Linked DNA regions of Homo sapiens. The protein of the gene in region 3 purifies or fractionates together with the protein of the main gene of each other region. This does not show direct contact. Each region holds a gene or a part of one and is shown on either strand. Other genes may lie near its edges.

The links. Proteins that work in one complex are often made in the same cells at the same time.
Region 1: the proteins of P2RY10 (region 3) and RUFY2 purify together in Homo sapiens (co-immunoprecipitation; one large-scale study listed by IntAct). This does not show direct contact.
Region 2: the proteins of P2RY10 (region 3) and SLC39A10 purify together in Homo sapiens (affinity purification with mass spectrometry; one large-scale study listed by BioGRID and IntAct). This does not show direct contact.
Region 4: the proteins of P2RY10 (region 3) and MON2 purify together in Homo sapiens (affinity purification with mass spectrometry; one large-scale study listed by BioGRID and IntAct). This does not show direct contact.

Annotation. Positions count from the first base shown.
Region 1 is NC_000010.11:68,342,908-68,345,592, forward strand, and holds the end of RUFY2 (RUN and FYVE domain-containing protein 2), read right to left. Parts: 3' UTR 501-2,685; downstream 1-500.
Region 2 is NC_000002.12:195,655,865-195,660,025, reverse strand, and holds the start of SLC39A10 (zinc transporter ZIP10 precursor), read right to left. Parts: upstream 2,801-4,161; 5' UTR 2,769-2,800; coding exon of another isoform or gene 2,417-2,768; intron 2,361-2,416; exon of another isoform or gene 2,216-2,360; coding exon of another isoform or gene 2,047-2,215; intron 1-2,046. UniProt on the Homo sapiens protein: Zinc-influx transporter. When associated with SLC39A6, the heterodimer formed by SLC39A10 and SLC39A6 mediates cellular zinc uptake to trigger cells to undergo epithelial-to-mesenchymal transition (EMT).
Region 3 is NC_000023.11:78,955,391-78,958,890, reverse strand, and holds part of P2RY10 (putative P2Y purinoceptor 10), read right to left. Parts: intron 1-3,500. UniProt on the Homo sapiens protein: Putative receptor for purines coupled to G-proteins.
Region 4 is NC_000012.12:62,473,326-62,476,825, forward strand, and holds part of MON2 (protein MON2 homolog), read left to right. Parts: intron 1-3,500. UniProt on the Homo sapiens protein: Plays a role in regulating membrane trafficking of cargo proteins. Together with ATP9A and DOP1B, regulates SNX3 retromer-mediated endosomal sorting of WLS away from lysosomal degradation.

The DNA of each region.
Region 1 (2,685 bases), on a different chromosome or scaffold from region 3:
AAATGATGACTTTAAAAAAATGTAAGCAACAAGTCCATGTCATAGTCAATAAAAACAATCCTGCAGTTGGGTTTTGTATCTGATCCCTGCTTGGAGTTTTAGTTTAAAGAATCTATATGTAGCAAGGAAAAGGTGCTTTTTAATTTTAATCCCTTTGATCAATATGGCTTTTTTCCAAATTGGCTAATGGATCAAAATGAAACCTGTTGATGTGAATTCAGTTATTGAACTTGTTACTTGTTTTTGCCAGAAATGTTATTAATAAATGTCATTGTGGGAGATAATAGTATGGCGTCTGTCCTAGAATGCTTTGTGTCAGTTACTAATTCTAAAATCAAATTGGTAGAAGGTGGTACTACATACGATGTCTATGATTTAGGAGAGGGAGCCGGGGCAGCCTATATATGTGGAGCCTCTTGACTGAAGCTATGATTCATCTTAATGCTTGTATCCACTTCCTTTAATGAGCAATTTAAATATTAGGGCATACACCACCTGTCTTTTTTGAAAGTTGTATGTGTTTTATTTTCCCAGGATTACTCTCTTAACATCTTAAAGCAGTAAAAGTATACAGTATTAATGAAACCAAAATTGCCCTTTTAAAGCAGGCTAATTTTCCAAATATTTATTTAGTTCATAAAATTCACATTTTATTTTTTAAACATTATAGGTTAGAAGAATTACAATTGTAATTCCCTGGCACCATGATAGCATTATTGTGGTAGTACTGCTAGGTGAGGGAATGGTATGTTAAGTCTGTTTTTGAAAAGTAAAATGAATACGAGTTCACAATCACGAAATACAGATTGTTAAAAGTCTTGTAACAGAAAAATCCAAAGTTAGTATAGTTTTTAAATAAGCCAAAACTACATGGAGCAAGTTGCTGTCATAAAAGCTGCCTAAAAAAAAAAAAAAAAAAAAAAAAAGCAAGTCAGTCAGTGTTGATACATGAGTTTTGAAAAGTGAGAAACTTACTTAAAGGATGACAAAATCATGGTTTGTTGAATGAAATTAGCCTTGGAATTTAAGCAACTTAAGTCACATTTTAAAATTTGTTCTAAGCACAGTAATAAAAAAGCATATTTGAAAATTTCATTTTTTGTTTATTCAGTAATCATAAAAATGTTAGCCCATCCCACCTATCAATACAAAATGGTTCAAGAATATAATCCTCTCTTGAGGACATTTCTGTCAGTATTCAAGAAAGACCATCTAGAAATCTGTGTCACATCTGACACCTCAAAAGCTGACTGGAAATTTACGGGTTTTGGAAAAAATAGATCTTCAAGTAAAATATTCATTTCATACTTAGGCTATTCAGAAAAATTTAAATTTCATGGAAGCATATATTCATGAAGAAAAGATCCTGCAGTATTAATAAGAACTCCTTTGTAGGCAGGGAGGTACCTAGGATTAACCACTAAATATAATGCTCTTAATCCATAAATTTTCTATGTATTTTTTATAGGCTCACAAACTTAAAGTGCATGGTTAAAAATTAATGTAAAAAATAGGATACTGAATGGTGATAGTGTTTATGTAACTATTCAGAGGTAATTTATACAAGTTAAATTCTTAGTATGCCATAAGCAATATAACTTGGATTAGTGTTCATTGAGTCAGCTTGAAATAGGTCAAGTGTACTGGCCAGGTGCTGTGGCTCACGCCTGTAATCCCAGCTACTTGGGAGGCTGAGGCAGGAGAATTGCTTGAACCCAGGAGGTGGAGATCGTGCCATTGCACTCCAGCCTAGGCAACAAGAGTGAAACTCCATCTCGAAAAAAAAAGAAATAGGTCAAGTGTATATTTCATCATCTCAACACCCTTGGCATAGAGGTGCTCAATGGACATGGTGAAATTTTACTGTGGATGTATACAGGTAGGCCACTACAATGTGATACTTCCTAAAATTTACTCCAATGAAAATGTTAATACAAAATTTTTTGAACTGAACTCTAATACATTACCAAAGCAAAGTCCTGATTTTTTTCTCACTTTTAATGCTTAGAGGAGAGGACCTTTATAAGGAGCCTGTAACATCCCCTACTATTACATACTTTTTTTTCTGGGGAAGGATTTGTGTTTTCATCTTTGAATTGGGGTCTGAGTCACCCCTTAAAAAAACAGCAATTTAATGAAACAGCATATGGGAAGATTTATAAATCAGGAAAAGAAAGATGGTTATATGTAACTTCCTTTCAAGATTAAAAGGAAAAAAGTAGAGGCCGAGGCCAAATAATGCCCCCTTTAATTTAATCCACTGTAGCTGAAAATCTTCAGCAAGCACGACAATAACTGATTTTTAAAGAGACCAAGAGGAAATTTTGTAGGACAAAATATTGGCCCTGTCTAATGCAAGAGGCAAAGGGAGAGGGGGAGAAGAAAGGGCAAATAAATATAGTTGAAATCTTACAAAGATAATGAAAATCTGTTGAATTAGAATATTAATAATTTTAAAAGTTTTATGCGTTTCCAGTTTCAGAACTGTGAAGCTTTAAAGTGCATTAAGAGAACTGCAGGCACCATCAAATACCAAATTGACAGAATTCAGAAGAAAAAAACAATCTGAAGCCTTATTTTTAAGGCCTTTACAAGATAAGGCAAGTTGTGTTAGCTCTGCTCTCTGGCCTTTTAATGAGTTACATGATTTTTAAGCATGCTCTGTTGAAAATACATTTTGAAAAA
Region 2 (4,161 bases), on a different chromosome or scaffold from region 3:
ACAAGATGCACATGTTATTATAAATTAGAAAATGGAAGAGAAGTAGAAATAAATCCATGAGTATTATATATAAGTAACAGAACAAAAACAACAGGATAATGTATCCCCCCCAAAGGCCCAGTAGAGACCATCAAAGCTCATTCTGGGGGTAGTCAAGGAGGGAGTGGAGGGAGAAAAAGAACGCAGACCTTCAACCACTAATGAAAGAACTGAAACATCTGTATGTAGAAAAAAGGTAAAATCAACTCACTATCATCTTCAGCCTTTTGGTTATCTCATTTAATGGTCACAGTTAAGTCCGTGAGTAGGGTTTTTGTACTTGAAGTTCAAATAGAAGATTAAGATAAGCAACTTCCTCAAGGTAAGCAAACTAATTAATAGATCAAGGTTTTGAACTTTTAAAATTTCACTCCAAAGCCCTAAATTTTTTCCAGTATTGGTCAACACTGAGGGTAGAAGGGTTGGGTGAACAGAATATTAACAAGGTAAATTTCTCTAATCAGAAGGAAATGATCATCCCAGATGCTGAATTTTCCTTGCTATAATACTACATCCTATCTTCTCCAAAAATCACTTTTGAAAAAGGCACACCCCCTAGATTAGTACTTGCATACGACACTTGAGGCCTACTCAAAGTACTTCAAATCAGGTGCTCAAAAAAAGGGAAGGACCGTGTTAGCTTTTAAGCAGTTAGAATTTAAATTGGTAACAGTAAGAACTAGTATAGGTTATCATGCAATCTATTATTGATGTCATTTCCTATGAGGTCTTCCCCAACCACTTTTTTTAAAGTAGCACCAAAGTCATTCTTGCACAGGGGTTCTTATCCAGGCGTCTATGTACGGAACGCAGAATGTTTGTAAATATGGACAGGTAAAAAAAGAAAAAGATTTATCTTAACCTCTGACATTTACTTATCTCTTCAGTTACGAATGCAGGCAAAAATTACAGCGATGTGAAATACCTGATAGCAATTTTAGATTAAATTTAAGCCAAATTCTTTAAAGATCATTTACAGTCCTCACTAATGCTTTACTAAAATATAGATGTCATATTTAATATCTTCATTATTTCATAACTGGTTTCTGTTGCAATTCTATGTATTTCATACATTTAAAACCATCATTCTGTGGTTCATCACATAAAAAAGTTAAAAATCCATACCAGCACATCATTGTTTTATTTTCTTCACAGCACTTATCACTGATATTATATGTTTCCAGTAAGGAGCCACTGGAGTAACCAGTGTCTGCAGAATGTGCGTTGTCTGGCATGGATCCAAGATCTAGAAAAAGTAACTGACTCATATTAAGGTACTCAAATATTTGTACAATAGAGTCCTAATACAAAACAATACACAGGAGTCTTGACTTGAGGCTTTCAATTGCATACTAAGTTAGAAGGAACTAAGTTCTACATCTCCAGCTTTTCCATTACTTGCTTTTTCTTAATTATGTACAATTTAGATACACATCCAAAAAGAAAACAAATACAAACCTATTCTAGTTTTGCTCCAAGAATGACTCAGTTCCAATGTAAAATTAGAGGACTTAACAGCAAAAGGCATAAATAAAAGTTTCTTTTAAAAAACAGTATAACCTACCATACTTTTTGTTTTTTTCTAACATGTGTTTTGTGTCACTGTTACTTAGAATAGGTACTCGAGTGAACGACCCTTCCAACGGAGGGCTTCAGGTTCTGCAGTGATATTTCTTCCTCGTGCCAGATCCTTAGTACAGCCCATGTGGACAGGCTCCCACGTGAACATTTCTTTACAGAAGCCACAGGAAGACCTTGAACGTCATGTTGCTCGCGCCCTGGCAAGGCCCCCGCCCTTCTTAGCTGGGGCGTTCGAGGGACCCCAGGAGAGGCAAGGAGTTCAGCAGATTCCCAGACCCGGAGAGGCGGTGCGCGAAGGTTCCTCTACGCGATCCCCCTGCCGCGCCCCACATCGCTCTCCACCTAAGGGCTTTCCGGAACAAAGCCGTGCGGCCGCGCCACCTCCGGCCCACCCGGCCTGTCCCACCGACCCGGCCCCACCCTCACCCTCAGCTCCAGGGACCCCCAGCAGGCCGAGATCTTCACACCCCCGCGCTCCGCCTCGGCTTTTCGGTTGGTCCGGGAGAAAACTAGTAGGAGCAGAGGCGCCGCCGTCCGTTAGCCTCGGTCCGGAACAGCGGTGCCGAGGCTCCATCCCGGGGTCCCCTCGCCCCATTACAGACCAGAGAGAAGGACTGGAGAAGAAAAAACCGGGGCGCTGGTCGCCAAGCCCCCGAAGACCTGCCTACAGATCCCCAAAGCCTCGCCCGCCCGCGCCTGCGACGCCATCCGCGGCCGGCGCGCAGCCCCCTAACCGCCGCCACCCGCCCAGCGGTCACTCCCCCACCCCGGGCGCGGCCCGCGAGGCTCCGCCAACCTCCACAGGAAGGTGAGGGGGGCGCGAGGCTCCGCACGCGAAGTGGATGCCGCCGGCTCCCGATCCCGCGGCCCGCAGCAGCCCAGACCGCACACGAGGAGCCGCGGCGCCCAACACTCTGCCCACCACGCGCTCTGCTTCGGCTGGCCGCCGCCGACTGCAGCAGCTGCGGGAACCCCAGCGCCCGCATCCCCGAGGGAACCAGCCCCGACTCCCCGGTTCTGTTCTCCCTTTCTACCCCCACGCCGTCCCGGGACTCGCAGTCTCCGCCGCGCACGGGGCCGGTTCTGGGGGAGGGAATGTAAACAAATCGGGGTTTTATAGTTACCTCACACTCGAGTGCCGTGTGCATCTCCTCTCCGCTCGGTACCAAACCCCGGCTGCACCAAATCGTGTATTCACCAAAGCAGACTGCGCTAACTGCGTCGCAGAAACCGGCGCGTCTGACACCCTGCTACGCTTGCGGCGTACAAGGTCCACTCAGCTCCCTGCGCAGCCGCACCCCGTCCGCCTATGGGTGCTACGCTATGGGCGTACACGCGCCACCTAGCTATTCACTTCGGATAACGCCAGTTGCGTAAAGGAGTCGCACTACTCACGGATTCCACATGGATCGTCCGAGGAATAGGAAATTCAAGTCTACGCAAACTGCGGAGTTCCGTGGCTCCGCGCTAGTTTTGTTCCAAGAAAGAACGCCGCGGGGGAGTTGGGGCGGCTTCTTAACGCATGCGTGGAGCGCCCTTTATCATTCGCCTTTTCTCCTGGCTTTCGAACGTCGGTTGCTGAGGCCTTGGGCAAGGCGAATGAGTAATGGAAGCTCTAAACCCAAACGCTTTAGCCAAAAAGCTTCAGAGTGATCAACTGGAATGTTCATCTGTATACGAGTTAAACATCTACGTTAAGTTAACCCCGCCCCCTTTGTTAAAGTAACCTTTTCAGTCTCTTAGGGCAACAGCGAACTTTATTTAGTGCTAAGTGCGAGGTGTTTTGCCTAGCTCCCCTTCCCACCCATTTAATTCTAAAGCACACTTACTGCGGGTCTTCCAAACCTAAAAGAAAAAGTTGAGTCCTGAGAACATGTCACACATGTAGAGAAATTCTCGAGGCTTTTGGCAACTTTCCAAGGTCTTCACTCCTCTACTCCTCAACTGATCGACTATTTCTTAACACTCTATGACAAAAAAATCCCGATCCAGCCAAGCAGTTCCATGGACTTGTGCCTACACCGTGCTCATTCTTGCCCTTTGCTCACGCCATACATCCCATCTAAATTGTCTCCTCCCCTCTTAAGCAACCACCAACCCACATTTTCTTAAAAGGTGACTCTGGACGTCTTATTTTTGCTTCATTACTCTGCTTCCTGGCTCTTACTTAATCCACATGTTGAGGCGTATCTGCATTCCGCCTGGGGTGCCTGTGTTTCTATATCCAACCAGAATCTACTTAACACAGCGAGTTCTGGGGGTGCCTTACTGGTGTCTAGTAGAGAAAATAAAACCATGAACAGCAGTAATCGCAGGCTTGACTGTGTGTCAAGTACTCCACATATATATTAATTTAATCACCATAACACGGTGAGGTAGGAAACTGAGGCACACAAGACTTTAACTTGCCTGGTATCACAGAGCAGGTAGAGAAAAGAGTTGGGATTTCCAAACCCATTCAGTATGGACGGCTAGGTAGTCCCGCTAACCTGCATATTATACCTTCATGAAAGAAGGTTATTTTTTGTTTTGTATCTCTAC
Region 3 (3,500 bases):
AAAGAGTGTGGCTGTTATGAGCTGCTGTTACTGTAAATAAAACTTTTGCTTTCCCCCATTCTATTCCATCTCCCTATTTGCCCTCTTATTTGTGATACATCTTAAACAGTCATGCAGTCATCTTGCTTATGTATGTGTTACTTAGAATGGAGGGTGGAAGGGACTCTCACAAATGGAAAGGCAGGAAATAATTATCATGTGGTGACGATCAAGGATGTATCCCAAAATCTGTAATGGAAGTTTTCAGGTGTATTTATTTAATTTAATTTTCACAACTGTCCTAAGATGTAAGAACTATTATCACCCTATGATCTAGATGAAAAAACTGAGCTTCAGAGGCATTCAGTAAATTGCCTTAAGTAGCAAAGCTAGAAAATGGTAAAGATAGGATTTACTATCATTCCTGGCTTGCTCTGAAGCGTGTGGTATTTCCACTATGCCACTTTCCTCTCCCTGACTAGGAGAGACTACTTAGTAGAATTTGGCTGTCTTAACTATCACTCCACATGCCTTTGCATGCTCATAGCTTAGCTCCCACTTATAAGTGAGAATACCTGGTTTTTGGTTTTCTACTCCTGTGTTACTTCACTTAGAATAATGGCCTCCAGCTCCATCCACGTTGCTACAAAAGACATTATTTCGATTTCACTGTGACATGTGAAGAGCACATTGTGGCAGAACCATTCTAATCCCATAGTAGGAACTTATATAACACTAGAATTCGTCTAGTTGGACAATCAGAATAGAAGTAAACACCTGTCCCTACTTATGCCACACTGTTCCCACCCTACCACCTACTTTGATTTTAGTGTTGGCACTGCTTCTACTATCAACTATTGTCCACACACAGGCAGTGAGAGAGCAAAGAAAGATCCATCAGTGCATTACAATTTCAATAACTAAGAATTGTTCATAACCTTACTCTCCTGCAGTCACACTTCCACTTTTGCACTTAAAAGAAATGGCTATTTGTTTTAGCTTCACTGGTGCAGAAAGTTTCACTTACAAAATGGGCATGTTCTGTTCACACCTCCCTGTTAAATAACAGAGCCCAATTATGCCAGAACAGCAAGCTAGAGGTCAAGTTTACACCTTTTTTATTTTTTAAATGTGGGTTCTTATGCTTCTGCAATTCACAGTTCATTGTGAGCGTAGAGATTTGCATGGCTTGTTTCCAAAAACCTCTTTTTTGCTTCAGACTGAAGGGAAGGTAAGAAGGGCTTTTTTTCCCCCAAATCTTCTTAGTGACCATTAGATGTAAAATCCCCGTGATGAGGAGAGGCAGAAGGTATTTATTTGGGGTTGAGCAGAAACATAGACTCTCTTAGAGGGAACACTTAGCTTGCTATGGACAATTGTGTCATTTCTGAAATATAAGAAAGGAGAAGCTAAGAAGCCACTAACAAGAAAATCCTGGATGGAAGGACTAAAATCAGAGTATATTCCTTCTCTCTGTTCCCTCACCCCATCCCTCTCTCTCTCTCTCTCTCTCTCTCTCTCTCTGTGTGTGTGTGTGTGTGTGTGTGTGTGTGTCTTTCTCTTCCTCTATCTATGAGTCTGGCTCTATTGTTGCCTACTTGTGGGCAGTTTGCTCCCTTTGTGTTGCCAATTTCTCTCCCCTCCAATCTGGACATATTCTTGGTTCCTGTCTCATAGGGATGTGGGATTGGTGATTCATTCCTGAATCTGTGCTTCCCTTTTCAGTCAGTGACCTGACTCCCCTCCCAGACACTCAAGCTAGAAATTAGGGAGTAATTCTGACCTTTGCCACTATATTTCCTCCCATAGACAATAAAAACCCAGAAAACCCAGGTAATTCTTCCTTCCATGTAAAATCCTCTCTAACCTATCTCCACCTCTACTGTCACCATCCTAATCCAGGCTGCTGTCATCAACCCTATTGGCTATTGCAACAGCTCCCTTACTAAACTGTTTACATTCCAGTCCTTCCCCTAAAGTTCATTCTCCATACCATGTCTAACATTAACATTAAGTATGGCTACCACTTATTTAGGGCTGCCTTTTATTTACAGGCTAAACACTTTATTCATTATGTCATCCATCCTCACAGGAGTCCTGTGATTATTTCCACATTGCAGATGAGAAAATTGAGGCTCAAAGAGGTTAAATAAGTGGTGCTGAGGTCACAAAATTCACATCTCTGGTTCCTTTTAATCTCAATCTGTGGGTCTAAGAGACCTTAACCACTCACTCGATCTAGGTAATCCTATACATCATTACACACTCTCACACTCTCTGTTCTTTCTCTTTTTAGCATCAACATTTGTAATTTAGGGTTTTTTTTTTTAATTTGTTTGTTGGTTATTACCCTCACTGTGCTCTTAAGTCCATCAGTGCCACAAAAAGATCTCCTTTTTTCATCACCATATAGCCAGGACCTAGCCTAGTAAGCATTCAAAGAACATATAAAAAGTATAATTGAACTGAACTGCTTAAACAATAGTTCAAAGTTTCTGTTTAGAAGTATTAAGCATAAATTAAAAACCTTGATATATCAACTAGTACATTTCTGATGCCGACTATTTCCCTAAAATGTTGTCTTCTGACTTGGGCTTCTCCTATCAATATTCCCTGCACCTATCCTTTTCACCTCAGAAAAGCAATACCTGTAGAGACCTGAGAAAAGAGAAAAGAAATCAATTTAGAAATCACAGGTGGTCAGACATATCCTATGGGTAGAAACTAGCACAGTCCAAGGTCTCAGGGTACCATCAATACTATTATCTGGACCTCAAGAAAAGGACAGCTTCATGATTTGCTTTCAAAGTTATCTCAACCTTTTATTTTTCTTGGTTGTCATTCTGTGAAGGAAATCAGAAAATGACTTGTTATCCACCTACACATGGGAGTGAGGAGGCTGCGTCTGTAATCACTAAAGCTCTCTGCATTTGAAAAGAAAACATAAAGGGAAATAACTCTATTTCCTTTTCCATGGCTTTTTGAGGACTTTGGCTGCTTTAAAGCCCACACTCAATCAGTATATATTCAATAAGCCCCATCCTATGAGCTATTTGCTAGGTTCTATGGAGAATATAGAATCATCCACAACGATCTGTGTCCCTGAGAAACTTCCTATCTTTTAAAGGTGAAGGAAATAAAAATATTTTACCCTAAAATATATTTCTTTAAAATATTTTGAGATCATTGCCTCAGGGCTCACAGACTGAGGTGGGGAAAATTTGCATTTGCAAAGAATCTCCATGAATGTAGCCATGCCTCCCCATTCTATGCTTTTCTCAGATCCAGGAGAGATTGAGCCTGACATCTTTAAAAGTTGGAAAAGAAACATTTACCATCTGTTCTCTCTGACATAGGTTTCATCTATAACAAGGCCAACTCTGTTACCAAGCCTCTTACTTCCTTTCTCCAATAACTTGTCTTGCCACCAAAAACTGTTTTTGAACATACTCTGAGTTCACATTTATTCTGTAATTTCAAGATGGTATATAAGCTTTTCTTACCTATTGGGAAATTGAGTC
Region 4 (3,500 bases), on a different chromosome or scaffold from region 3:
AAATGGTGGAAATGGTATGTGAGTCCATGTGAGTCCATCTCTAACTCCTCTCCCATTTTCCATTATATCATGCTGCACATGCCTTTACAACTTTCTTGTTTTTGTTATTGTTCCCATTTGTTTACCTTGCTTCATTATTTGTTACTATTGGTTATTCTTTCCATCTTGGAACCCTCTAGTTTTGAGTTTTGTAAGACTGTACTTCCCTGTTTCCCCTCTCAGTATTCCACATCCTTTTCTTTTTCTTTTTGTTTCTATTTTTTGAGACAGGGTCTTACTCTGTCACCCTGGTTGGAGTGCAGTGGGCTATCTTGGCTCACTGCAGCCTCTGTCTCCCAGGCTCAAATGATCCTCCCACCTCAGCCTCCTGAGTAGCTGGGACTGTAGGCAGATGCCACCACGGCTGGCAAATTTTTGTATTTTTTCATAGTGACAGGGTTTTGCCATGTTGCCTGGGCTGGTCGCAAACCCCTGAGCTCAAGCAATCCACCTGCCTCAGCCTCCCAAAGTGCTGGGATTACAGACCCGAGCCACTGTGCCCGGCCATCCTTTTCTTTACATACAAGTGTCTCCCAGGTTCTCTCTTCAGATCCTTCCTTTCTCCATGCTCACCTGCTTGGCATCATCCACTCCTATTGCCTCTGGACTTGCTGCGATGCTGATGACTCTTAAATCTACTTCAGTCATTTGCTCTCTTTACTGAGTGTAGATCTGCATTTCCAGCTGCACATCAAACACATCTAGGACGTTTTTTCACATGCGTCAGTAGAACTTCTTCTTTTTCTTTTCTTTTCTTTTTTTTTTTTTTCTGAGACAAAGTCTCGCTCTTGTCCCCCAGGCTTAAGTGCAATGGTGCGATCTCAGCTCACTGCAACCTCCGCCTCCCAGGTTCAAGCGATTCTCCTGCCTCAGCCTCCTGAGTAGCTGGGATTACAGGCGCCTGCCACCACGCCCAGCTAATTTTTGTATTTTCAGTAGAGATGGGTTTCACCATGTTGGCCAGGCTGGTCTCGAACTCCTGACCTCAGGTGATCCGCCCGCCTCGGCCTCCCAAAGTGTTGGGGTTACAGGTGTGAGCCACTGCGCCTGGCCTCTTCTTTTTCTTTTCTTTTCTTTTGAGACGAGTTTCACTCATGTTATCCAGGCTGGAGTGCAGTGGTGCAATCTCGGCTCACCGCAACTTCTGCCTCCCGGGTTCGAGTGATTCTCTTGCCTCAGCTTCCTGAGTAGCTGGGATTACAGATGCCCATCACCATGTCTGGCTAATTTTGTATATTTAGTAGAGACGGGGTTTCTCTGTGTTGGTCAGGCTGGTCTCAAACTCCCGACCTCAGGTTATCTGCCCGCCTCGGCCTCTCAAAGTGCTAGGATTACAGGTGTGAGCCATCGCGGCCAGCCAGATAGAACTTCTTGTAATTGAACTGGTCTTTTCCTCAAAACGTCATTTTCCCCCTATTTCAGTTGTTTTGTTAATGGTATCTAGCACTGTTGCCTACTTTAGTCATATTTGGCTATCTTCTCTCCCTCATCTCTCTTTATTCACTGTCACCTGTTCCTTCCAGCTCTGTAATTTTTAGCATACTTCTCCTTTTTTCTGTTTTCTCAGCTATTATGCTAGTTCCAGATTCTATTAGTAACATTATGCCTGGCCTTTGACATACATTAATAGCATACATGACTTCAAATCATTCTGTATGTCACCCATGCAGAAGCCCACAATGTCTACTCTACTTATAGGACTCTAACATAGCATTTAATATTCTCTTGATTTTCCTAACCTTCCTTTTTAGCTTTATCACCCTCAAATCTTCTTCATATGCCTTTATGCTTCACCCCAACTAGGTTACCTGCTAGTCTCCAAATATGTCCTACTGCTTCTGTCTTTCATGTTATGGCTTCTTTGTTTTTTTGTTGTTGTTGTTATTTTTGGAGATGGAGTCTCTCACTCTTGCCCAGGCTGGAGTGTAGTGGTGTAATCTTGGCTCACTGCAACCCCCACCTCCCAGGTTCAAGTGATTCTCATGCCTCAGCCTCCAAAGTGGCTGGGATTACAGGCGCCCGCTATCATGCCCAGCTAATTTTTGTATTTTTGGTAGAATATTTTCAGTAATCTAGTAATTTAGCCTGGGTGAAAGAGTGAAACTCTATCTTTAAAAAAAAAAATTAATCTTCAACAAGTATCTAATTAGCACCTCCTAGGTATACAAATGCTTTGCACTATAGTGAATTTAGCATTTAGTAATTTAGTATTTTTAGTAATTTTGTATTTTAGTTTCACCATGTTGGCCAGGCTGGTCATGAACTCCTGACCTCATGATCTGCCCGCCTCAGCCTCCCAAAGTGCTGGGATTACAAGCGTGAGCCACCACACCCATCCTCCTTTTCTTAAAAATTTAGTCTTCAGCCGGGCACAGTGGCTCATGCCTGTAATCCCAGCACTTTGGGAGGCTGAGGCGGGCTGATAACCTGAGGTCAGGAGTTCACGACCAGCCTGGCCAATGTGGTGAAACCCCATCTCTACTAAAAATACAAAAAATTACCTGGGCATGGTGGCGGACGCCTGTAATCCCAGCTACTCGGGAGGCTGAGGCAGGAGAATCACTTGAACCCGGGAGGTGGAGGTTGCAGTGAGCCGAGATCTCGCCATTGCACTCCAGCCTGGGCAACGAGAGCTAAACTCCGTCTCAAAAAGAAAAGAAAAGGAAGGAAAAAGCATACCACCTATGTGGGAATACCATGTATATATTTTTAGTTATATACATGTAATCTGCATTCCAGTCTTTGATTTGTTAAGGAAATTTTGTTTTCTAGAAGCCAGAGGTTCTAGAATAGAATGTCATATAGGTATATATTTTTAGAAGGTTTTAGGGTTGTAGAATAATTGAATGTTACAGAAGAAAATCTTATTGATTTCAATGTAGTATTTGTTTTGTGAGCATTTTGTCACCTAAAGGGTGTTCTAGATGTATCAAGTACTCCCAGTGTACACTTGACTTCGGGTCTTTTGATTTTACCTGACATCTGAAATCACAAGTCTTCAGGCAGCTCCATACCTCTCTTGTGTCTCATTAGTATATTATTTTATCTAAGTTGCCATTAACTTGAATTTCACTTTTTTTTTTTTTTTGAGGCAGAGTCTCGCTCCATTGCCCAGGCTGGAGTGCAGTGGCATGATCTAGGCTTACTGCAACCTATGCCTCCCAGGCTCAAGCGATTCTCTTGCCTCAGCCTCCTGAGTAGCTGGTATTACAGGTGCACACCACTACTGACCGGCTAATTTTTTGTATTTTTAGTAGAGACGGGGTTTCACTATGTTGGCCAGGCTAGTCTTGAATGCCTGACTTCAAATTATCCACCCACCTCAGCCTCCCAAAGTAGTGGGATTACAGGCATGAGCCACCATGCCCAGCCTCACATTTCTTCTTTAGCTCTTGTTTCATGCTGTGTCCTGTGGAAAAATAATTTGGACCTTTGGTAAATTTGCCTTAATATCCAGGTTT